Homo sapiens: one gene and its partners. The protein of the gene in region 1 purifies or fractionates together with the protein of each later gene. This does not show direct contact. Each region holds a gene or a part of one and is shown on either strand. Other genes may lie near its edges.

Region 1 (8,378 bases):
GTTCACACACTGAAGTCAAAAAAGAGCCAGAAAAACTCTATATACTGAAACAAAACAAAACAAAACCCTACCTCTATCCATTGATGAAGGTCTGCCACAGGCTCCACATTCCAACTCTAAACTTTTAAACCGTCTCTCCTCTTAACCCAGGACAACTAACTCAGGGATCCAGGTTCAGATCCTCCCAACACAGGTGCCTAAATTTCAGTCTTCTCAATTTCTTTTCATATGGAGCTTAAGCTGTGAAGTTTATGGAAACGATATGGTTTCAGGAGAAATCCTGGAATGGTATTTTAGTTCTTCTCAGGTATCCTGTTTTCCCTTTTTTTTTTTTTTTTTTTTTTTTTTTTTTTTTTTTTTTTTTTTTTTTTTTGAGACGGAATCTCGTTCTGTCGCCCGGGCTGGAGTGCAGTGGCGCAATCTCGGCTCACTGCAAGCTCTGCCTCCTGGGTTCACGCCATTCTCCTGCCTCAGCCTCCCAAGTAGCTGGGACCACAGGCCCCCGCCACCATGCCAGGCTCATTTTTTTGTATTTTTAGTGGAGACTTGGTTTCACTACATTAGCCAGGATGGTCTCGAGCTCCCGACCTCGTGATCTGCCTGCCTCAGCCTCCCAAAGTGCTGGGATTACAGGCATGAACCACCGCACCTGGCCTGTTTTCCCCTTTTAAAGGTGACTAGAATAGTGCTTCCTTATTCTAGAAATGACCAATGAGAAATGAGAGGTAATCAGGGTTCTCTACTGTAGGGGTCCCAAAGCCCCAGGCCATAGACCAGACTGGTCCATGGCCTGTTAGAAACTGGACCACACAGCAGGAGGTGAGCAGCGGCCAGCGAGCATTACTTCCTAAGCTCCACCTCCTGTCAGATCAGCGGCGGCATTAGATTCTCATAGGAACGTGAACCCCATTGTGAACTGCACATGCGAGGGATCTAGGCTGAGTGCTCCTTATGAGAATCTAATGCCTGATGATCTGAGGTGAAACAGTTCCATCCTGAAACCATCCTCCCGACCCCACCACAGGTCTGTGGAAAAAATATCTTCCACGAAACCAGTCCCTGGTGCTAAAAAGGTTAGGGACCAGGTCTGTGGAAAAAATGTCTTCCACAAAACCAGTCCCTGGTGCTAAAAAGGTTGGGGACCACTGCTCTACTTAACACTTTCACTAGGATCCCTTAAAGAGAGGACTAAATAATCATCACAATAACTTTCCTTTCTGTTTATAAAGAATAGATACCAATTAGAACAAATACCTGAGAAAAATGTGGTACTGTGTTGCAGTCACACAGTCTTCATCTTCTGCTATATAAGCAGTGGTTTGTTACCCTTTTCCCTCCTGTAAGCTGCTTTCACGAGTCAACCCTGACCACCAATATGGGAACTCAGGTAATGATAATAGCCATGACTTATTGAGAACTTACTGAATAATAAGACTTTTGCATACATTATGGTGGCCAGCTAAGAGCTGTCTCCTCAAACCCATTTGCCCCCTCTTCACCGTAGTGAGCTGTCACCATGGGTGCGCAGCTGCTCCAGGCACAGACAGGGAGCCCCATGCAGTGGATGACAGAGCTGTCCCACCTGCCAGGGTCCTTGAATGGTCTCGTGGCACAGATCCTGCTGTGGGCAGTTACTGGAGAGGCATAAACTTCCATTTGAGGAATCTGTTTGATTGGGCACTTTAGTCAAACACCAACTAATATAATTACCTCAGCTAATCCCTAAAAAACACAGGGGAACTAAGATGTAAGTACCACCTACCTCATTGAGTTACTGTAAGGATGAGAAACTGCATGCAGAGTCCTCATATACACATTTTCACTACTCCTATTTGAAAACATTTGTACTATTATTAGCCCCATTTTACAGATAAGAAAGTGGTAAATAAAATGCTCAAGACCGTATAGTTAATGTGTGGTAGCGCCAGAGTGGGAACTTAGACATCCAGCCTTAAAACTGATCTTTTAACCTCTGTGCTATTCTGCTTCCAGAAGGATGAAATGAGATCATACATAAAGAGCTTGGCCCAGCTGAGGAGCCGTCACCTAACCGTGCTCAGGAGTGCATCATGGTTGAGAGTGTGGGCTGTGGAGGTGATGGGCATCCAATGGCATCCAATTCTGCCCTGCTAGTATTAGATTTGTGCTTAGGCAGAAACCTTGGTTTTCTCATCTGTGAAAAGAGGGTGATACTACCAACCTTATAAGGCTGTAGTGAAGATTAAAGGAAGTAACATGTACCAACGGCTTATGACCGAGCCAGGCACAAGGCAGCGTTCAATGATGCAAGCAGAGGAAGAAGGGAACAGCTGGGGCTTCCTGCCCGTTTCCTCTGTCCTAACAGCTCCTTTTTGCAGACACTGGGAATCAAAACCAAAACGCATGCAACCTTCCACCTTGAAGAACAGCACCACATCATCTCTTTGCTAAGCCTGATTCCCGTTTTCTGGATAGGAAACTGACACACAAAGTATCTCCAGAATCATATCAGAGGTAAGTAGCAGGCCAGGATCGAGACGCAGCTCCAAATCTCCGGCCATAACGCTGCATGGCCCCTCACCCGGCTACCTCCCCTCTCAAAACACTCTGAGTCAGATAGAGGAGCTCTGTCCATGAGTGAACGAACGAATGAATAATTTAAATTTTTTAAATCAATTTGACAAATGAAAAGAGGGTGTACGGAGGTTAAACGTGGTTCCACCATGCGTTGGCTATGAGTCCTTGACCCCGCCAGCTTGTTTCCCAATCACTAAAATAAGGATTTGAACACCTCCTTTGCAGGGTCCCGGTGAACATCAAATGAAGAACTATGTGTAAGCGCCAGGTACAGTGTACCTGGCACGTATTAGGTTTTAATAAACGGCAACCAACTCTGACTAACGGTTGTCCCTGGGGAACACCTGCCAGGCACAGAGGGAGGCCCTACGGAGGCGCAGGGCAGAACTGGGCAGCAGCCGTCTAGGGAAGTGGCGGCGGATTAGAGAAACGGGCGGCCAGGCACAGGCACCCCCTACGAGTGAGATCTGGCCCCTCGAGCCAGATCTCCAGCCAGATGCCTCCAGCATCTGCTGCCGCGGAGAGCACGCACCAGGTCCCTCCTGCCCGGCAACAGGCGCACTCCGAGCGAGCCCAGCGCCTCTGCTCACCATGCCAGGTCCCGCTGCCAGAGGCCTAGAGGAGAAGCCCAGCTAGGGGCCGGCGTCTGGACGCCCGTGTCCCGACTGCGCGGGGTGAGGAGGAAGTGGAGATGTTTTCGGATCGCGAGCGCCGCGCGAGAACCCCGCCGCAACGGAAAGAAACAGACCCCTCGGCGCCGCCTCCCGCGTGGCGCCGCGGGGCCCCTCCCCCATACCTGCCGAAGTGCCCCACGTGGTCATAAATCCCCTCGAAGTGGCGGGACCCCATGGTGCGGCCGTGCACTGGGCGCCGAGTTAGCCGAGCTCCGGGGACTGCGGGTAGCGCGCCCCGCCCCGAACCTCCCCGCCCGGCCTCCTGCTCTCCCCGCGCGTCCCAGTGCTCGGGACCAGCGCGAGGCTGTATTCTGTTCCTCCCTCCGTCGCTTGGCCCCTCGGTCCCCCCAAGTATCTTCGGCTTTTTTCCTGCCGCCTCGGCCTCCTTCCCGGCGCGCTGTGGTCCCGGCGCCCGCGGTCGCATGGTGCCCTCGCCCCCAGCGCCGCCGCTCTCCCACCCGCCCCGCCGCCCACCCTGGCTCTTGGCACCATGTCTGCGGGGTCGCCACGCTCGAGGGAAGCCCCGACGCCTGGGAAAAGTTGTCGCTGAGAGAGAGCCCAGGGTGGGAATGCAAGGGCTAGGCTCGGTCCGGGGGCCGCAAGAATATATAGCCTTCAGCATGACGCCCCTCAGAAACATGGCTCTCAAACTTTAATGCCTAAGAATCTACTGCAGAACTTGGTTTAAAAGGTACATTTAAGGCCGGGCGCACTTGCTCACGCCTGTAATCCCAGCACTTTGGGAGGCCGAGGCGGGCGGATCACCTGAGGTCGGGAGTTCAAGACTAGCCTGACCAACATGGAGAAACCCCGTCTCCACTAAAAATACAAAATTAGCCGGGCGTGGTGGCACATGCCTGTAATCCCAGCTACTCGGGAGGCTGAGGCAGAAGAATCGCTTGAACCCTGGAGACGGAGGTTGCGGTGAGCCAAGATCGTGCCATTGCACTCCAGCCTGAGGAACAAGAGTGAAACTCCGTCTCAAAAAAATAAAAGTACAATTAGGCCGGCGTGGTGGCTCAGGCCTATAATCCCAGTGCTTTGGGAGGCCGAGGCAGGAGGATTGCTGGAGCCAAGGAGTTTGAGACCAGCCTGGGCAACGTATAGCGACACCTCGTCTATACAAAAATAAAAAATAAATAAATGTACATTTATTTTGAGACTCCATCCCTGATGATTCAGGATGCCTGGGGAACAGGAATCTGATTTTTTTTTTTTTTTTTTTTTTTTTTTTTTTTTTTTTTTTTGAGACGGAGTCTCGCTCTGTCGCCCAGGCTGGAGTGCAGTGGTGCAATCTCGGCTCACTGCAAGCTCCACCTCCCGGGTTCAAACCATTCTCCTGCCTCAGCCTCCCAAGTAGCGGGGAGGTGCCCGCCACCACGTCCGGCTAATATTTTGTATTTTTAGTAGAGACGGGGTTTCACCGTGTTAGCCAGGATGATTTCGATTTCCTGACGTCGTGATCCGACCGCCTTGGCCTCCCGAAATCTGATTTTTAATAAGCAGACCATGGCATTCCAAGCCACACTTTGGAGTGGGCAGGGGTTTGGCCCATAGCCAACCCAGGCAGGGGGTGACCTTCCTTCTGGAAGGTATCAAGTGAATGAACTTTAGGGAAGAAAGGTCAATTGCTGGTCCACAGCGCTGAAGCAGAAAAGCCAGTTTCCGACTATATCCACAGTGAGAGTTGCCTTCTCTAGTCAGCCTGGCAGTCACTGGCCCCACTGTTGGCGTGCTATTCCACTCTATAAGGCCACTAAACCTTGAGTTCCTAGAGAACAGGGATGCATTCTCTTCGTCACTTTGGTAGCCTCAGTTCCATAGCAAATGCCCTCTCTCTGAACTTCTCCACCTCATCCTTAAAATCTGAGCACACCTATCGCTTTCTCAGAGAAGTCCAACAGTTTGAGGGCCAGGGCAGAGCTCTACCAGAGCAGAGCATCAAGAGTGGGTCTGATGGCTCCGAGAAGCGGCAGGATCTTGCAAGGCTGTGTTGAACATTTTACTTTGACCAAAGGACAAGGAGAACTCCCTGTAGACAGTCTTAAAGCAGAAGAGTAACAGGCGCAAACTTGTACTTGAATAATATTTGAAAGAGAGGAGAGTCCATTTCCCAAAGTGCTTCCCTCCCCTACTTGTCACAGAGCCTACAATAACACCATTAAAAATTGACTTATTTTTGTTATGCACAATCCTATCTAGACATTCTCTTCTGAAACATAAATACTCTTGGAAGGACTAATCCCTTAAGTAATAAACAACTTGGAGAGGGTTTTTAAATTAGATAGTTTCCTGCTAACTAAAGAGACTTAAGAAAGCCTAAGTTCTTCAGGTGAGGAATGCTAGAGGGATACAAGGTGGGGGGAAGATGAGAGGGTAGTGAGGAGTAGTTATGTCAAGGGCTGAGCCTAGGAGGAAAGGTGGGGGCCATGGCAGCCAGTCAAGACGCCATATTGCTTCAAAGCACCAAAGGGAGAGTTACCTGGAAAAGATATGGAGAAATTGAACTTTGATATGAACACTATTCTTATTACACCAGATAGAAATGTCACAATATGGATAAAATGGACAAATTACTGAAAAATACAATCTAACAACACTCAAGAAGAAATAGATAACCAAAATAGGCCTACATCTATTAAAGAAATTGAATATGCAATTAAAAACCTTCTGATATAGTTTGGATGTTTGTCCTCTCCAAATCTCGTGTTGAAATGTAGTCCCTAATGTTGGAGGTGGGGCCTGGTGGGAGGGGTTTGGATCATGGATCCTTCATGAATGTCTTGGTGCCATCCTCCCCAGTAATGAGTGAATTCTCAGTTATGAGTTCACACAATATCTGGTTGTTTGAAAGAGTCTGGAACTTCCTCCTCCTTCTCTCTTGTTCCTTCTCTCACCATGTGATTCAGGGACCGCTTCATCTTCTGCCATGACTGGAAGCTTCCTGAGGCCCTCAACAGAAGCAGATGCTGGCACTATGCTTCATGTACAGCCTACAGAACCATGAGCCAAATAAATCTCCTTTCTTTATAAATTATCCAGTCTCAGGTATTCCTTTATAGCAATGCAAATAGACTAACACATGTTTCCACAAAGAAAACCCCAGGGTTGGCCACGTGCAGTGGCTCACACCTGTAGTCCTAACACTTTAGGAGGCTGAGGCAGGAGGATCGCCTGAGTCAAGGAGTTTGAGACCAGCCTGGGCAACATGGTGAAACCTCATCTCTATAAAAAATGCAAAACATTTGGCCAGGCATCATGGTGCACGCCTGTTATCCTAGCTACTTGGGAGGCTGAGGTGGGAGGATTACTTGAGCCTGGAAGGTCGAAGCTGCAGTGAGCCGTGACTGGGCCACTGCACTCCAGCCTGGGTGACACAGTGAGACCCTGCCTCAAAAAAAAGAAAAAAGAAAAAGAAAAGAAAGAAAGCCCCAGAGTCAGACATTTAAGGTAGAAATAATATTGATTCTGCACAAACTGTTCAAGGAAGTTGAAGATGAGTGAATACGTCCCAAATCACTGAATGGTCCAGCATTACTCTGACATCAAAACCAGGTAAAGACCTTACAAGGCAAGAAAACTATACACCAATATACCTATATGAACATAGATGCAATAATTCTCAACAAAACTTTAGCAAATTGGATGTCTCTTTATATTTAAAAGGACAAGTACATCATGAGCACATGAGATTTATCACAAGAATGCAAGAGTGATTTAACATCTGAAAATCAAGCAATATAATTTACCATACTAACAGACCATATGAAAAAACATGATTATCCCAGTCAATGCAAAAAACACATTTGGGAGAAGCCAACACCTTTTCATAATAAAAACACTGAACAAACTAAGAATAGAAGGGAATTACATCCATCTCATAAAGGGCATCTCCAAAAAACAACCCATAGCTAACAGTATACTTCATGTGAAAGACTGTATGTTTTCTCCCTAAGATTGGGAACTAGACAAAGATGTCTGTTCTCACTGCTTCTATTCAGCTTTGTATGGGGGGTTCTAACCAGAGCATTAGGTGGAAAAAAAGGCATTCAGATTGAAAAGGAAGAAATAAAACTGTGTTTATTCACAGATGACATGGTCAAATATAGAGAAAATCTGATGGAATCTATTTTTAATAGCTACTAGAATAAGTGATTTTAGCAAAGTTACAGGATATAAGATTAATATACAACAGTCTACTGTATTTCTATATACTAGTAAGGAACAATTAGAAATTGGAATTTTTTAAATACTGTTTTCTTCTTTTTTTTTTTTTTTTTTTTGATATAGGGTCTTACTGTGTTGTCCAGGCCGGACTGCAGTGGAATGATCATAGTCCACTGCAGCCTCAACCTCCTGGGCTCAAGTGATCCTCCCACCTCAGCCTCCTGAGTATTTGTGACTTCAGGCATGCACCACCATGCCCAGCTAATTTTGTAAATTTTTATTTATTTTTTCTTTTTTCCCCTCTTTTGTAGAGAACACGGTCTCGCTATATTGCCCAGGCAGGTCTCAAACTCCTGGGCTTAAGCTATACCCCACCTTTGCTTCCCTAAATGATAGGATTACAGGCATGATCCACTATGCTTGGCTATTTTTATTTCTTTTGTAAAGTGGAGGTCTCACTATGTTGCCTAGGCTGATCTTGAACTCCTAGGCTCAAGCAATCCTCCTATCTCAGCCTCCCAAAGCCATGCTGGGATTACAGGCATGAGCCACCAGGCCCAGCCTAAAATACCATTTTCAATAACACTTAAAATATACTTAGGGATAAATCTGACAAAAATGTGCAAGATCTGTAAACTGAAAACTAGGTATGAACATGTATTGTGCAACTTGCTCTTTCCCTTGAACATCTGTTTGTGAAATTCATCCATATTGATACATGCAGCTCTAATCCATTCTTTTTCATTGCTACATAGTATTCCATTGTCTCAATAAACCACAATTTACTTAATCATTTTCTTATTGATGGACAGGCAGGTTATAGCCAAAATCTTACTACAGCACCATTGCTATAAACTGTCCCTCTGTACATATTTGTGAGTTTTTCTAAGGTATATCTCCAGGAGTTGCTGTGTTATATGTATACCCTATAACACAACAACCCCTGGAAAACTGCTTAGAAAAACTTAAAATATTAAATAT
Region 2 (7,514 bases), on another chromosome or scaffold:
AAACAAAAAAAAAACAAAAAAAAACATTTGTAGAAAATGCCAATTCTCTGGTCACAAACTCCACTAAGTTTAGCACTTAAGGTCTCTGCAGTGTTATAAACGTAATTTAAAATACTGTTAATTCTATAATTCCATTGGTAAAATAATGTGACTTGGAATATGGCAGTCTTCATGTTGAGGGCAATGATCCACAGTTTTGTTCTGTCTTTTAATTTCTTAGGCGTGAACAGTTATCCAGAAGAACAGCACCCTCCACCACTGGTCTGGGCTTGAGGTTCATCATCAATAATCTGTACACCTCGCCTTGCAGTTCCCGGCTGACTAGAGCCATTGCCTTTTGCTCTCTCATCCACTTGTGCTGTTTCTATCATCCCTAAGACAGAGAGAAAGCAAACATTATTAGGACCACAATATTTGTGTTTTCTCTTTCTAAAATTTCAGTATAACACTATGATAGCTATTTCTGACTTTCGACCAACAAAGAAACTAAATATAATGAACATTGGGTCAGCTCACTAAAACAGCTTCACCTGCATGTTTTAAAAAACTAGTGTCAAAAACTAGTATCAAGTAGTAAGCTTATTTATCCAGTGGTATAATGGCCACAGTGATATCAATAAAGAAAAAAATTTTTTTGCTCTGAACAATTGCCTGCGTACAAGTATAATCCTTAAGATTTTCCAAACACACTTAGAAATATGTCAAAGAAGTTCAAATTATTCCAAGTAATATTTAGGGGGCAGGATTTATTCTTCAACTAGAAATGTAATACTTTTAAGTAAATGATTCTTTTTATTTTAGTTTTGAGAGACAGGGTCTCGCTTTGATACCCAGGCTGGATGTGCAGTGGTGTGATCATCACTTACTCACTGCAGCCCCTAACTCCTGGGCTCAGTTGATCCTCCTGCCTCAGTCCCTGAGTAGCTGGAATTACAGGTATGCAACACCATGCCTGGCTGAGTTTTTTTTTTTTGCTAGAGATGGGGGTCTCACTATGTTGCCCAGGCTGGTCTCAAACTCCTGGGCTCAAGTGATCCTATGGCCTTGGCCTCATAAAGCACTGGGCTTATAGGTGTGAGCCACTGTCCCTGACCACAGCGATATTTGAAGAATAATGGAGTTTAAGATGAGGGAACTTCGAAGAACACAGCAGAAAGACTCACACCACCTGATTGCAAGAACTAGTATAAAGCTACACTAATCAAAACAGTGAGACAATGATAGGAGAAATAGATCAGTGGAACCAAAAAAACACAGTCCAGAAATAGACCCCGTAGATATGGTCTCTTGATTTTTGACATGGTTGCCAAGGTTATTCAATGAAGAAAGAATATTTTCAAAAAACAGTAGTATTAATAGAACTGGACATCTATTGTAAAAAAAAAAAATCAACCTTAACCCACACCTTAACATCTTATGCAAAAAACAACGAAAAATGAATTATACACTTAAATGTAAGACATGAAACAAAATTTCCAGAAGAAAACACAGGAGAAAAATCTTCATAGGAGAAAATTTTTGTGACTTTGGCTTACACAAAGAGTTCTCATGTAAGACATAAAACATGAATCATAAAAGAAAAATAGATAAACTGGACCTCACTGAAACTTAAAACTGCACTTTAAGAGACACAGGTAAGAAAAATGGGAATACACAACACAGACTGAGAGAAAGTATTTACAAAACACGTATTTGAGAAGATGAAGGAAGAAAAGAGGGTGTCCTTAAAATACAAAAGGGCTCTTAAATTAGAGACTGCTCTTGATTAATGGTTTACAATTTGAGGTATGTGGGACAATCCAACAAGAGGAAATAAGAAAACATTATAAATTCTATATCTACTTATTTTTAACTTTCCAAAATTTCTATTTTTTAGGTATGTTTTAAAATGTACATATTAGTACTTGTACATGTTATATAATTTCTAAATAAACATGTGGAGCATGCAAAAATTGTTTTGAAGATGTGATATTTATAACATTTGTAAGCCACTGACTTAGTGCATTGTTATTTAAAAGCATTATCAGAAGGAAGGAAGGGAGGGAGGGAGGGAGGTAAGGAAGGAGGATATCCTGATGACTAGCATCACCACCACTTGGGTGCTTGTAGAAATGAGGACCTCAATCTATCCCACACCTATTAAATCAAAATATGCATTTAATAAGATCCCCAAGTTGTTATGTACAGCATTGGCTCTTATATTTTAGTGTGCATTGGAATCATATGAAGCGTTTGTTAAAACACAGATTCTGGGCACCATCCCTAGAAATTCTGATTCGGCAGGCTTGGAGAGCCCAAGAATTTGCATTTCTGACATATTTTCAAGTGATATTGATGCTGCTGATCAGGGGACATCACTTACATAATCAATATTTTAGAAGAATTATGAATGACTTGAGGGTTTTATAAAACTAATTTATTCCAAAATGTGTGTGTGTGTGTACACACACACACACATATCAATATTCTTTTCTAGAGAGAAAAACCATGATTTCATCAAATTCTCAAAAGAGTCTAAAGTCCATAAACTCAGATATGCATTTTATTGGTAATATAAGAAATGATTTTCAGAATATATATAAATTTATTTTCCTTTTTCTTTAAAACTATAAACTTTTTAATATGGAAAATTTCAAACATAAAGTAGAAAATACAGCATAATGAAAATCCATCACCCAATTTCATGAATAACCCTAAGCATCCCTACCATTATTTTGAGTCAAATCTCAGACCCATAACTTTATTCCTAAATTATTTTAATGTGTCTTTAAAAGATAAGAACTCCTTTTATAAAGCATAACCACAATACCATAATCACACCTAAAAAATTAATAGTATCTTAATATCATCAAATATCTTGTTTCACAAACACTCTTTTTCACTAGTTTGACAAATCAGTGTCCAAATAAGGTCCATTCATTGCAAGAGGTTGTTACAGGTCTTAAATCTGTTTTAATATGTAAATTCCCCTTCCACTTTTAATACTTATGCATATATTATAATATATATTTAGCCCACACCATACTTATGATTTCATAACCATTAATTACTGCTTGAAACAGGGTTAAAGTAGGTATTTAAGCATTAAAAAAAATAGTTACAGCACTTCAGAAATACTACCAATAGTCAATAGTTTAAAAAGAACCAATTCTTTGAAAAGTAACACTGGTGTAAAATACATACTATTTTTTAAAAAATAAAAACCAAAAACCATTTCTAAACAAACTAAATCTGAATATACCTACTTTTACAAAGGTCAAGAAAGAGTTCCTCAATTCCTTTGTTCTGTTTGGCTGAAGTATGATAATGTTTTGCTCCCACAGATTCTGCATACCTTAAAAAAAAGTAACATCGGTGATTGATGTAAAATATTATTCATGATTTTGTCTTAACTGCTTTTTTATAGTAACAGTTTTAGTGACATATTAATTTACTCAAGTTTAGTGAAATTAAGTTTATATAGCTATTTAAATTCTCTATACATTAAATCAAATTTTAAATAACACAAATATAACAAGCCTCGAAATTTTTATAGATTAATTTGGGACTCAAATACTTCAAAAGTTTTTCTGGCTTACTGCCTATTTGATCATGATAGTTTTGTTTTATATCACTCGTATTTTTCACTGAAGTCAAAAAGGGAAGTAAGGGCTTTATTGCCACAAGCCCAGAAATTACCATGTAAACATGCTTCACTGAATCCAACACCTCAATCCATGCTAAGAGATTTGAGTAATACCTAAATGGTAAAGCAAAACGTATAAAGAGGAAGATTTCTACTAGGGAGTGATGGGGAATGGGAGGGTCACAGTACTTACGACTCTGCTTCTTGAATGGAAACATGTCTCTCCTTTTCCAAGTCTATTTTATTACCTATTTTGAAAAAAGTAAATATTTATCTTTATACTGATTTATTTTCATAACAAAATTAAGCCAATTCTAAATATAAAATTGCCATTTTAATTACCAGCAAAAATAATGCAAATCCCCACCAGACTTCTAATGTCTTGAAATTATAAAGTTAAGCCTTGTGATCTGAGGGTTGATCATGCCTCATCCTCCTTCAAATGACTCAATTCATACCTTTCCTGAATCTGCAGCCTCTGACAAAGAAAACAACTTTTCCAAAGAGACAGGCACTCTTTTTTGATTTTGGGGGATACCAGAGACCTAGAGATAAACCTATGATTCTTAGGCAAGTGTAAATGATCAAAAGTAAGAGCAAAATTTTCTACAGTTCCCATTAACTTAGAGCCGGTCAATAAGTATGGCTATCTTAGTGTTTACTAAAATATATTAATCTAGCCTCTTGGATCCTACAAGTATTTTGGTTTCCTGGATGATATAAACCAGTTAAAGTAAAAATTAAAGTGTACAGATTTTTAAGTACTCCACAATCATAAGGGGAAAAACTGTATTCTCTTTTTTTTTTTTTTTGACGGAGTCTCGCTCTGTCACCCAGGCTGGAGTGCAGTGGCGCCATCTCGGCTCACTGCAAGCTCCGCCTCCCGGGTTCACGCCATTCTCCTGCCTCAGCCTCCTGAGTAGCTGGGACTACAGGTGCCTGCCACCACGCCTGGCTAATTTTTTGTATTTTTAGTAGAGATGGGGTTTCACTGTGTTAGCCAGGATGGTCTCGAACTCCTGACCTCGTGATCCGCCTGCCTCGGCCTCCCAAAGTGCTAGGATTACAGGCTTGAGCCACCGCGCCCGGCCGGAAAAACTGTATTCTTTGTTTAAAAAACAATTTTAGTGAGTTATTAAAACTTAATATATGTATATCATGCAGATTTAAATTATAAGTTTAGCTCTCCTTAAACAACAGAACCAAGCTGGGATTATACTTTTAAAAAAAGCCATCAGAACAAAAATGAAGAAACTGCAAAATACTGATTCCTTGAACTTAAGATGAGTTGGCTGGACACCCAGAGTGCTAAAGGTAATAAAAACAGTAGATAACGATAAGGAAAAATACCCTATGGAAGGACACTTCAAACAAACATTTTTATTCTTCTACTATGGCTTTTAGGGAGAAAAGAGAAATCTTATAAATAAGGTTACTTTTTTTCTTGGAACCATATAGATTCTAGGAGACAATTTCAGATAAATTTCAGATAAGGCATTGAAATAAGCACCCAATAAAAGATAAAATGTTTAGCACTGAGGTGGACAAGTCCAAAGGTTCTATATACTGAGGACCTCGAATAATCTGAGAACCTAGTTGCTGGCAACTGCAAGAAACTATCTGCCACCATAGCCTAAGAATCAGAGAGAGGGAAGCAGACAACACTAAAGCTCAGTGGATACCAACAAATTCAGTAACAAACTCTTCCTTCTTTGAACAGCTATCTACCACAGCAAGAAGTTTCATATTAGTTCTAACTTCCTACATTATATTTGTCATTGGAAATTTTAATTAGCTAAATATGACAATGTCTGACAGTAACCAGAGGAAAAACCGTCGTGTTATTCTGTAAAGAATGCAAAAAGCACCACCTGGTGGCCAGTGGCTCCAACAAACAGGAAAAAGATTCTGCCTCACAAAGGCAAAATAAGATAGTCTCCTACTAAAAGTAGCAATATTAATTTTGCTTCAATTACCTAAAACCCTATGGAATTTTTTTCTAGGTATTTAATGGCTCATGTTCCAAATTCCATCAATATCATCAATACCTATAAAAAGAGTGAAGAGAGGAAAAGCAGGCAATCACCTTACTGCCTCAAATGAACATTTAGGAGAAATAATTCAGACACTGCTTTATTATTTGATAATATTTTAAATGACTAATTTTAATAAATCAGGCCATTAATAAATAGCTATCTTAATAACCTATTATTTTAAACTTAAAATATTTTAAATCTAAATAACTATTATTTCTTTGAATAATCAGTGTTCACAATGGATTGACAGCACAGAATACATTGCAGAAACCTGACTGGCTAGTGACTGACCTCTTTCCAAAGCTCAAAAACCCTTTTAGTTTCTATATTTTTTCAAAAGCAAGACAGCTAAGGAGTAAGGCTTTGAGACTCATATCTGCTTCAATACTACTGTGCAGCTACATACGGAACTTTCTGATAGGCTTAAAACACCTGAAAACAAGGACAATAACCAAAGCAAGCACCTACTTAAAAGTATAGTACTATAAAGAATTAAAAACATAAACAAATAGGCTGACACTATTGGAAAGGGAGGGAAAAAGCTACCCTCTAAGTTAAGCAGATCTTCCTTAAAAATACATATTTGAATTAAGAACATAGAAGGGGCATGTCCACTGCTAAGGGCAAATGGCCTAATGATATAGAACTAGAATCATATTATGCTTAGACTGAATGGTTGTGGGGCACAGTGGAAAGAAGCTTTCAGAAAGCTTTTAAATGTGATAAAACTTGTTTTTAAGTCCTTGCTTACTCCATAACTGTAATTTTTTTTTTGTTTTACCTTTTTTTGAGACAGGGTCTTGCTCTGTCACTCAGGTTGGAATGCAGTGGCGTGAACACGGCTCTCTGCAGCCTCCACCTCCCGGGCTCAAGCGATTCTCCTGCCTCAGCCCCGAGTGGGACTACAGGCACACACCACCGCATCTGGCTAATTTTTGTATTTTTTTGTAGAGATGGGGTTTTGCCATGTTGCTAGGCTGGTCTCAAACTCCTGGACTCAAGCAGTCTGCCCACCTTGGTCTCCCTAAATGCTCGGATTAAAGGCCAGAGTCACCACGCCTGGCCATAACTGTAATATTTTGGACAAATTAGTTAACCTCTGTTAGTCTCACTGTACGCATGTGTCGCTAACAAACCTTGCAGGGTTGATGTGAAAATAAGATATATGTAAAAGGCCTAGCATATACTATATGCTCAATAAGGAACAGTTATTAATATTAATGACATTCATCACAGTGAATGATCAAATGGAAAGTCAATATTGTTGTAAGACAATTAAAGTCCATGACAGGTAATACAAACTTACTCCTGACCTCAAATGATCCGCCTGCTTCAGCCTCCCAAAGTGCTGGGATTACAGGGGTGAGCCACCACGCCTTGCAGGTAACGCACTCTACCATCATCCTACTGGCTTCATCTAGCTAACTTAGTTTATCCAACACTTGGTCTAGGAAATGTTCCCTTATCTCCCCCTTGCACCCCAAATCTAGTTTGTTTGCTTTTGTGCTCTCATAGCACTCCATTCTGCATTTCCCTTCCATAGCATTTATTATAACATATAATAGTAGCTTGTTTTCCTCTCTTTTTCCACACAAGAGACTCTGGGAGGACAAGAACCGTATCTATTTTGTTTACTTATTCACTACACTATTCCCAAAGCCTGGCACATAGTAAGCAATGAAGTGTTTATTAAGGATATGGGCTTGAAGTGGCAGGCAGATCTGAGTTAAAATCCCAGGTCTACTTCTAACAAACTATGTGACTTTGGGAAGTTTCAAGGTCTCTAAGCACATTTTTTCATCTGTAAAATGAAATGGTCTTCCCCTCAGCATTGTCAGGAGGCTTAAATGAAG
Region 3 (7,514 bases), on another chromosome or scaffold:
CCTTTGCAGGAGTAAGAATGGGAAGCTGTGAATTCTTTCACTGTAATTAATACATTCCAGGTGAGAACGAAGAGACAGCAGACCTGTAGGTTGTAATCTTCCACCTCTAGAGGAGGCCAACTTTTCCTGCTCATGCCATACTGATTAACGCGTCATCTCCAGGATAGGGGTCCTTCTTACTTGGTTGTCAGGCTGCCTGCAGAGGGGTAACAACCCATCTGCCTCTCAGAGACTGACTGCAAGAGCCTCTGAAGGCATGCCCTGGCCCCGGTTTCTCACTGCATCAACCGATTCCTCACCAGGATGCCATGGGGTTCTAAAAGCACAAGTCAGATCTCATCACTCCCATCCTTACAAACTTCAGGAACCATTGACTGTTTCAGGATCGATGCGGGCTACTTTGAGGGTTAACTCCTCAGCACATCCAAGGCCTTCTAAAATCCAGCTTCAAACCTCACTCTTCTCACTGGATCCGATCACCTTCTCAACACCTGCCTCTCAGCCCAACTGCCCCTCAGCCTTAAGGCTGAGTTTAATGCCGTCTCTGATCTACCAGCTCTGATCCACCAGCAGCTTATACATTTGCATTTCCAAATCTTTTCTTCAATTTAACAACTACTGTAACCAATCTGGCCTTTTTCAAAGTTCTTAGTTTGTCTTCTCCACAGACTAAAACTTCCCGAGGGCTAGGATCCTACATTGTTTGTATTTCCCAGAGGGCCTGGTTCAAAGTGCATTTATGTGCCTACTGCACACTTCAAACATTTGTGTAGTCATCAAATTAGTAAGCTAAGGCCTGTGCCCAGCCAGCATGTCTGGCCTCCCAGGAGAGCACAATCCCAAATGATGCTTTCACATCGTGTTCAACCCCCTTCTACACAGCACCGTGTGTACGAGGCTACCCACCTAAAGTAGTGCAAGGCTGTTCCTGGTCTCAAACCTCATGGCCTCCAGCAGATGTTATTAGATGCCGCCCACAGCCATGCTTCCCTCCCCCAACTTCCTTGCTGTCAGTCCTAATTCTAGCTGGATATGCAACCTCCCTAATGTGACTAGAAAAGAGCCCTAGCTGCAGTCAGTGGAGCCCTCTGTATCCCCTCTGCTGAGGACTGGCTTAGCCATGGGCACCTGGTACAATTCAAGCCAGTGTGATGTAAGAGGAATTCTGCCAGGAGCTTCTAGGAAAGTTATCCCTGTGATAGAGACACAAGGGTCGGCACAGCCTCTCTTCTTCTACTGAGGGTTTTACTGTCTGCATGGGACTTGTGGGGCAGTAACAGCCTTCATTAACCATGGGGACAGCCTGCCTAGGATGCACTGGCACACTGTGGATGGCAGAGTGGCAGGAAGAGAAGCACCAGGTCCATGATGATGCTAGTGAGCCACTGAATTAGTCAACCCTGGGGGCACTTGAGACTTCTCATGTTGCAAAATAAATGCTGCACTTAAGCAAAAAGATCCTAATAGCCACCCATCACTTAAATGTATTAATGATAACAACAATAGTGCACTCCCATGGTCTGCCAGCATGTGCTAAGTCCTGGACAAATACTATCTCCTCTGATTCCCTGGGCAGTCCTGTGTGTAAACATCACGAACTTCAAGCAAGACTCACAGACAGGGTGTCCAGGATTTGCACCCAACCTGCCTAACTCTAAAGATGATGCCCTCCCTGTCATATATTACATGGCTCCAGGCCTCTAGTCCTCTGCCCTCACACGCTCCTGACACACATACCACTGCAGCCCTGACATCTGTGAAGTTTCAGAGCTAAGTGAGACTGTTGAGTGGTCTGGTCCCTTACTGTGTAGACCTGAGGCCACAGAGACTGCAAAAACATGCCAAAGGCAGCAAAGCAAATCACTGACAGAGCCAGGGCTGGGAGAACCCCAGTTCCTGGCTCCCAAAAGACCCTTTTCCACAGAGGTGAAGCCGAGCACATCCCAGGGGCAGCCTGAGCCAGCAGGGCTTCAGACTAACCAGGTGCCAGGGCCCGCCCCCTATTTCCCAGGGTGCTGCCCAGCTCAGAAGGCCAGATCAGGGAAAATCTGCACTCACCAGCCGGACTGACTTCTGCTCCTCATGGCTGATGCTGCCTTCGCCCGTGGGCAGGGATGCCTTGGAGTGCTTGGTGGCAGCCTCTCTTTCCCTCTTTGCCACCTGGAAGAGCTTATCCTGGATAGCAGCATGCTCCTGTTCATACCTGTGCAGAAGAAACATGAGGAGAAACAGATGTGGATGGCATGACGGGCAGCCCATAGCCAAGACAAGATCTGCGCACTCACTTCAGCCACCAGGGAAATGCTGAAACCAGCCAGCGGCTGGTCAGGAAAGGAGAGAGTGCTGTGAAACCGCATGCCCCATCATTCCACACCCAAGCTCAGGCATCAGTGACAGCTCCCCAGACAAGAGGAGACAATGACACTGAGCCAAGACAACACAGCTCAGGAACAGGAGGAGACCTGGCCAAGTAGGCAGCCCCATGCCCAGTGAGAGTCTCAGGGAGGGGCTCAATCCACGGATTGCCTCCACTTGAGAGCTTGAAGATTTGAGATGGTAGTAGTCCTCTGTTTTGAACATTTAACTCTTCATTCTGAATATCTTCCTACCCTTTGACCTATTTCTGGGCATTCTGCCTAGTAAAATAATCCTATAGAGAATAAAAAAGTTATTAGTGCTGAGATGCTCTTAACAGTATTATTTATTGTAGTGAAAAAAATGCAAGCAACCTAAATGTCCCAAAATCAAGGTCAAGCTAAAGAAAATATGGTGTGATCATATAATGATCTATGACATCATCACTAGAAAATAGTCTTTCATTTGTCTGTAGGTTGAATCTAAAAACTGAGAACCAATAAATGCTTTTAGCAATAAAACTGCTTATAAAGCAGGTGCAACTAATGACAAATCATTATAATACTAAGTGAAAATAGCAAGATATGAAATTATCTATGACATTCAAAAAATAACCCTAAACGGGGGGTGAGGGGACTGGGTGGAGAAGAACATGAAATACTCCAAAATATTAACAGTGGTTGTCTTGAGATGATGAGTCTATGGGTGATTTTTTCACTTTGTATATTTTCTAAATCTTTCATTAGCAGGCATTACTTTACCATTTTTAAAATGTTTAAAAGTACCAAAAAAGCAGGGTTCAGGTTAATAGTTGGCTTTTTTTCCTCTTTTTTTTTTTTTTTTTTTTGGTTTTGGGTCTCACAATGTGGTCCAGGCTGGAGTGCAGTGGTGCAATCATAACTCACTGTAAACTCCAACTTCTGGGCTCAAGCAATCCTCCCACCTCAGCCTCTTGAGCAGCTGGGACTACAGGCATGTGTTACTACCCCCCAGTTAACGTTTTTAATTTTTTTGTAGAGACAGGGTCTCACTATGTTGCCCAGACTGGGCTCAAACTCCTGACTTCAAGCAATCCTCCTGCTTTAGCCTCCTAAATTCACTGGGATTACAGGATTGAGCCACCACACCTGGCCAGGTGAGTTATTCTTGCTAAGACCGATTAGGGAGAGTAAATCTTAGAATGTGGGTCTTAACCCATGGCTATGCAACAGACCCAACATGGCTGAACTACTAGAGGGCAAACGCCCAACCATGGCTGACACTGGGCCCCCTAAGCTGACCCACTGGGTCCTCTGACCATACTGAGGGCAATTTCCTCAAGGATGCTGAAGAGGTCAATCAGTAACAACTACTGTGAGCATCCACTGAGAACTCTGTAGGCCAGGTGCTGTGCTCATGTGCATGATATATATAAACATATTTAACCATGACAAGATCCCAATTAAAGAAGTACTCTTCTTAGCCCTTCTTAGATGCAGTGATATTTCAAGTTCACATAACTAGTAAGTTGCAGGATCAAGATGCCACCCTGTGCTCCACTGGGGCCTCTGTGCCTTAACCACTTTGCTAAAACTTCTCCGGCGACAGGAAGCAGGTCCCATGACAGAGGTGTGGCCAGCTCTTGGGGTCGTGGCCTGTGCTCACAAAGTTACCAACATCCTGGAGCCAGTTCATCTGGACAACCACAGTTAGCACTGGGAGGGCTCCACTTCCTCATCTCTCTAAAAACATGCCTGCATGTGCACACACATGCAGAAGTTCCAGCCACTCAACTGTTTAGTCCTAGCTTTTTTAAATGATTTTTTTTTTTTTTTTTTTTTTTTTTTTAGAGACAGGGTCACCAAGGCTGGAGTTCAGTGGTGCAATCACAGCTCCCTGCAGCCTCAGCTTCCTGAACTCAAGTGATTCTTCCACCTCAGCCTCCCGAGTAACTGGGACTACACAGGCACACACCACCACCCCCAGCTAATTTTTTATCTTTTAGAGACAGGGTCTTGCTATGTTGCCCAGGCTGGTCTCAAACTCCTGGCCTCAAGCAACCCTCCTGCCTTGGCCTCTCAAACTGCTGGGCATGAGGAACATTAACAATCAATTCCCCTATGCCCCTTTTGGTGTTTCTACATCTTTAAACTAGGACCAGTGATACCTATACCATAGGGTTGTCCTTCAATGCAACTGAGATTAATTATGTGAGACAAAGCCTCCAGGGCTTCAGGCAAGGAGAGGGGTACCCAGTGAGGAAAGAGGCTTTTAGGCGGAGCGCAGTGCCGGGAGCAAGCAGGCTCTCGGGCTCACCTCTTGACACCCTCCTTCATCCCTGAGGGCTGCTGGCCACCACTGCTCCCCGACCTGGGCAGTGTGGATTCTGCAAAGGAAAGAGAAGAAAGGGCCTGTCAGTGGCACCCCAGGGTCCACGAAGTCACAGAGGTCACCCAGAGAGGAATGACCCCCATGAATGAATGTGCCCCTTGGAAGGCAGCATCACAGATGTGTCCCCACAAAGGAGCGTCCACAGGGGCAGACAAGGAACACCCTTGATTCAAGCTGTCTGGAAAGCCAGATGATCCAAGCCACCTCTTATCCCGAAGGGGTCTCTGCACCAGGATGCCCACAACACTGGGTGCAGTGTTCCAAACCCATCCCTACTCTCCTGACAATTATTTGGAATCCAGGTCATCTCCTAAGCACAGGCCAGGAGTGGCTGCGGGAAGGTATTGCTTTGCTTCATGAGGACAACCTCCCGGGTAGAGGTTTTGGCATAGGGAAGGGAAGGGGTGGGGGCTCTTTAAATCTTGTTTCCCTTAGTACCCACCTGAGTCTGCACAATCCTCACTGTGGCAAATGCCCCATATTAAACCTAATTCTACTTAACCACTATCGCCTTTAGTATTATTGGGCTCTTTTTGTTGTTACAGTAGGTCCCTTTTGATCATCACGAATTTCGGGATTTCTGAGCAAATCCAATTCACTCTCCCCACCACTTGCTGATACTGAAGGTTTTGTTACTACCCTGTCCCCAGCCTTTACCCTTCCAAAGCTCTCTGTCAGCCAAAGCTCACCACCTTTCTTGGCCTTCTCCGATGTCCCACACCTCCCTCCACCACAGGGTTCTATGCACCAGCAGCCAGAACCACATAGAGCATAACATAAGAACCAGGCTGTGTGAGGCGCTCAATGAGGGTGTGCGACTCCACCCCAGACCCGTCAGGGATCCTTCGGGGGGCACTTCTGAAAGCATCAGCTGTGACTACTCGCACTTTCAAACCACCTCTCATGGGAGGAGAGCACCTCCCATGCTCCTCAGCAACACACCAGGTTCTCAACTGAGGTGAACTCAGGAGCCTGCTGCGGGGTTTCATCTCCACACTAGTGCTCGCCATGCTTATTTATTTGTCTGAAGAGCTTTACTGAGGTTTAATGTCTGGTATTTTTGCTTTTTATATAATTTTCCATTTTTTAACTACAAAAATAACGGGGCTGCCAATGTAGAGCATGTGGCACTCATCCTCACTGCCCTTTCTGTGTGCCCCTGCCCGCTCCCCGCTCCCTTGGAGTGCACATTGTTGAACATGTGTTTCTTTCAGTATTAGTGACGTGGAGATCCTGTCATGAGTATGGCCATCTGTGCACATTTCCTACTGAGTTGTCTTTCTTAAAGATCTTTAAGAACTCGCTACATATTAAGATTACTAGGACTTTGTCAAATGTTATATTTTCCCTAACTTATCCATTCCTGTTACTTCTTTTCTAAATTGTCTAATTTCTTATATTCACATTTCCTATTTTTTTTAATTTAAGGTTTCTTCGTTTAATATGACGTGTAGAAAATCTATCTTCTATTGTACTTTCATGGCTTCAAGCCATACATTTCAATCTTTTATTTCCTCTGACATTTTTGGGGGGTATAGTATGAGAAGAATTTAATTTTAATTTCTTTTTCTAACTTTGTTCCATCACTAAAATAAAGCAAAAACTGGTTTTAAAAGTACAAAATATCTTAAAATTAGTTAACTTTAAGACAGTCCATTTATGCTGACTCTTCAACATTCAGAAACAAAACTTACACCTATCATTTAAACAGCAAAGTACTTTGTTATAATTAACTCCAAGTGACAAAAGAACCACTGTTCTTGCTTTCTAAACTGCTGGAACTTACCAAACTGAAGCAAATGCTTCTTATTTCTTCTAAAGCTGAAACTGATGTGTAGTATTATATATTATGGCAATTTTCGCTTTTATCATCACTTTCTCCCTCTTTCGAGTTAATCCAGTTTGTTAAAGTGCATTGGGTCAAGTTAGACTCCTCTTAAGCCCTTCTCATCAGTTAGTTAGAGCCAGCGTGGGGAGTAAGTGAGCCCTATTAGTAAAGGACAAGGGCTTCTTGGAGGGTTTTCGGGAATCTCACACATCCCCTACAGTGGTAGATATTCAGAAAGATCTTGGGGTGGGTCCAAATCCAGGTGCTGACTGGCTCCTGGGCAATGCTTCTAGGCCCCCGAGCAGGCTGGGATGCACCCTGTCGCCGGACCTCCGCTCCTGCAATCTGCCCATTCGCAGTGCCCACCCACCACCATTCCTCCTGCCTTTCACAGTCCCTCTTCTCCCGTGAGCCTGGTACAGATTCCAGTGTTGCATCACAACATGACACATAACTCATCAGTCTCCATAACCAGAGCCAGGTGTGCCATGAGAGAGGGTCCCTGCCCACCTATCACTGTGTCTTGGCACAGGGCACAGGACTTGGTTCTGGGTGGCCTTCAGTAAACACTAAGTGGGCAGGATACAGCTCTCATATTCTAAACTCTTTCAACCCAACAGGGAAGATGAGTAGAAAAGGCAACTGTAACGCGAGACCAGGCCCAAGAAGAACAATCTAGTGGGTGGTTATCCACCTGAACAGTCGGTCCTTCCGTGGTGGCATGCTGCCTCCAGCCAATCTTTTTTTTTTTTTAATTGAGTTACGGAATCTGATAGACAGACCCAAGTTCTCAAAAACAAGTATGTTTTGAGCAGTTGCTCCAAGGACTTTTTTATTTTGTAATATTTTAACATTTGTATGCCTTAGAACTTTTTTCCTTAAAATTTTATTTCCTTGTGTTTGCTACAAGTCGTTATTTGGGGAAAGCACAAATTTCTTCATTTGCAACACGCACAATACA

The links. Proteins that work in one complex are often made in the same cells at the same time.
Region 2: the proteins of SLC22A16 (region 1) and RAB21 purify together in Homo sapiens (affinity purification with mass spectrometry; 3 studies listed by BioGRID and IntAct, with this or other methods). This does not show direct contact.
Region 3: the proteins of SLC22A16 (region 1) and CHCHD6 purify together in Homo sapiens (co-immunoprecipitation; 3 studies listed by BioGRID and IntAct, with this or other methods). This does not show direct contact.

What each region holds. Positions count from the first base shown.
Region 1 is NC_000006.12:110,473,170-110,481,547, forward strand, and holds the start of SLC22A16 (solute carrier family 22 member 16), read right to left. Parts: upstream 3,445-8,378; 5' UTR 3,406-3,444; coding exon 3,353-3,405; intron 3,284-3,352; exon of another isoform or gene 3,150-3,283; coding exon of another isoform or gene 3,089-3,149; intron 2,494-3,088; exon of another isoform or gene 2,348-2,493; intron 241-2,347; exon of another isoform or gene 82-240; coding exon of another isoform or gene 72-81; intron 1-71. UniProt on the Homo sapiens protein: Facilitative organic cation transporter that mediates the transport of carnitine as well as the polyamine spermidine. Mediates the partially Na(+)-dependent bidirectional transport of carnitine.
Region 2 is NC_000012.12:71,778,390-71,785,903, reverse strand, and holds part of RAB21 (ras-related protein Rab-21), read right to left. Parts: intron 3,874-7,514; coding exon 3,819-3,873; intron 3,335-3,818; coding exon 3,246-3,334; intron 374-3,245; coding exon 231-373; 3' UTR 1-230. UniProt on the Homo sapiens protein: The small GTPases Rab are key regulators of intracellular membrane trafficking, from the formation of transport vesicles to their fusion with membranes.
Region 3 is NC_000003.12:126,727,767-126,735,280, reverse strand, and holds part of CHCHD6 (MICOS complex subunit MIC25), read right to left. Parts: intron 4,721-7,514; coding exon 4,651-4,720; intron 2,204-4,650; coding exon 2,059-2,203; intron 1-2,058. UniProt on the Homo sapiens protein: Component of the MICOS complex, a large protein complex of the mitochondrial inner membrane that plays crucial roles in the maintenance of crista junctions, inner membrane architecture, and formation of contact sites to the outer membrane.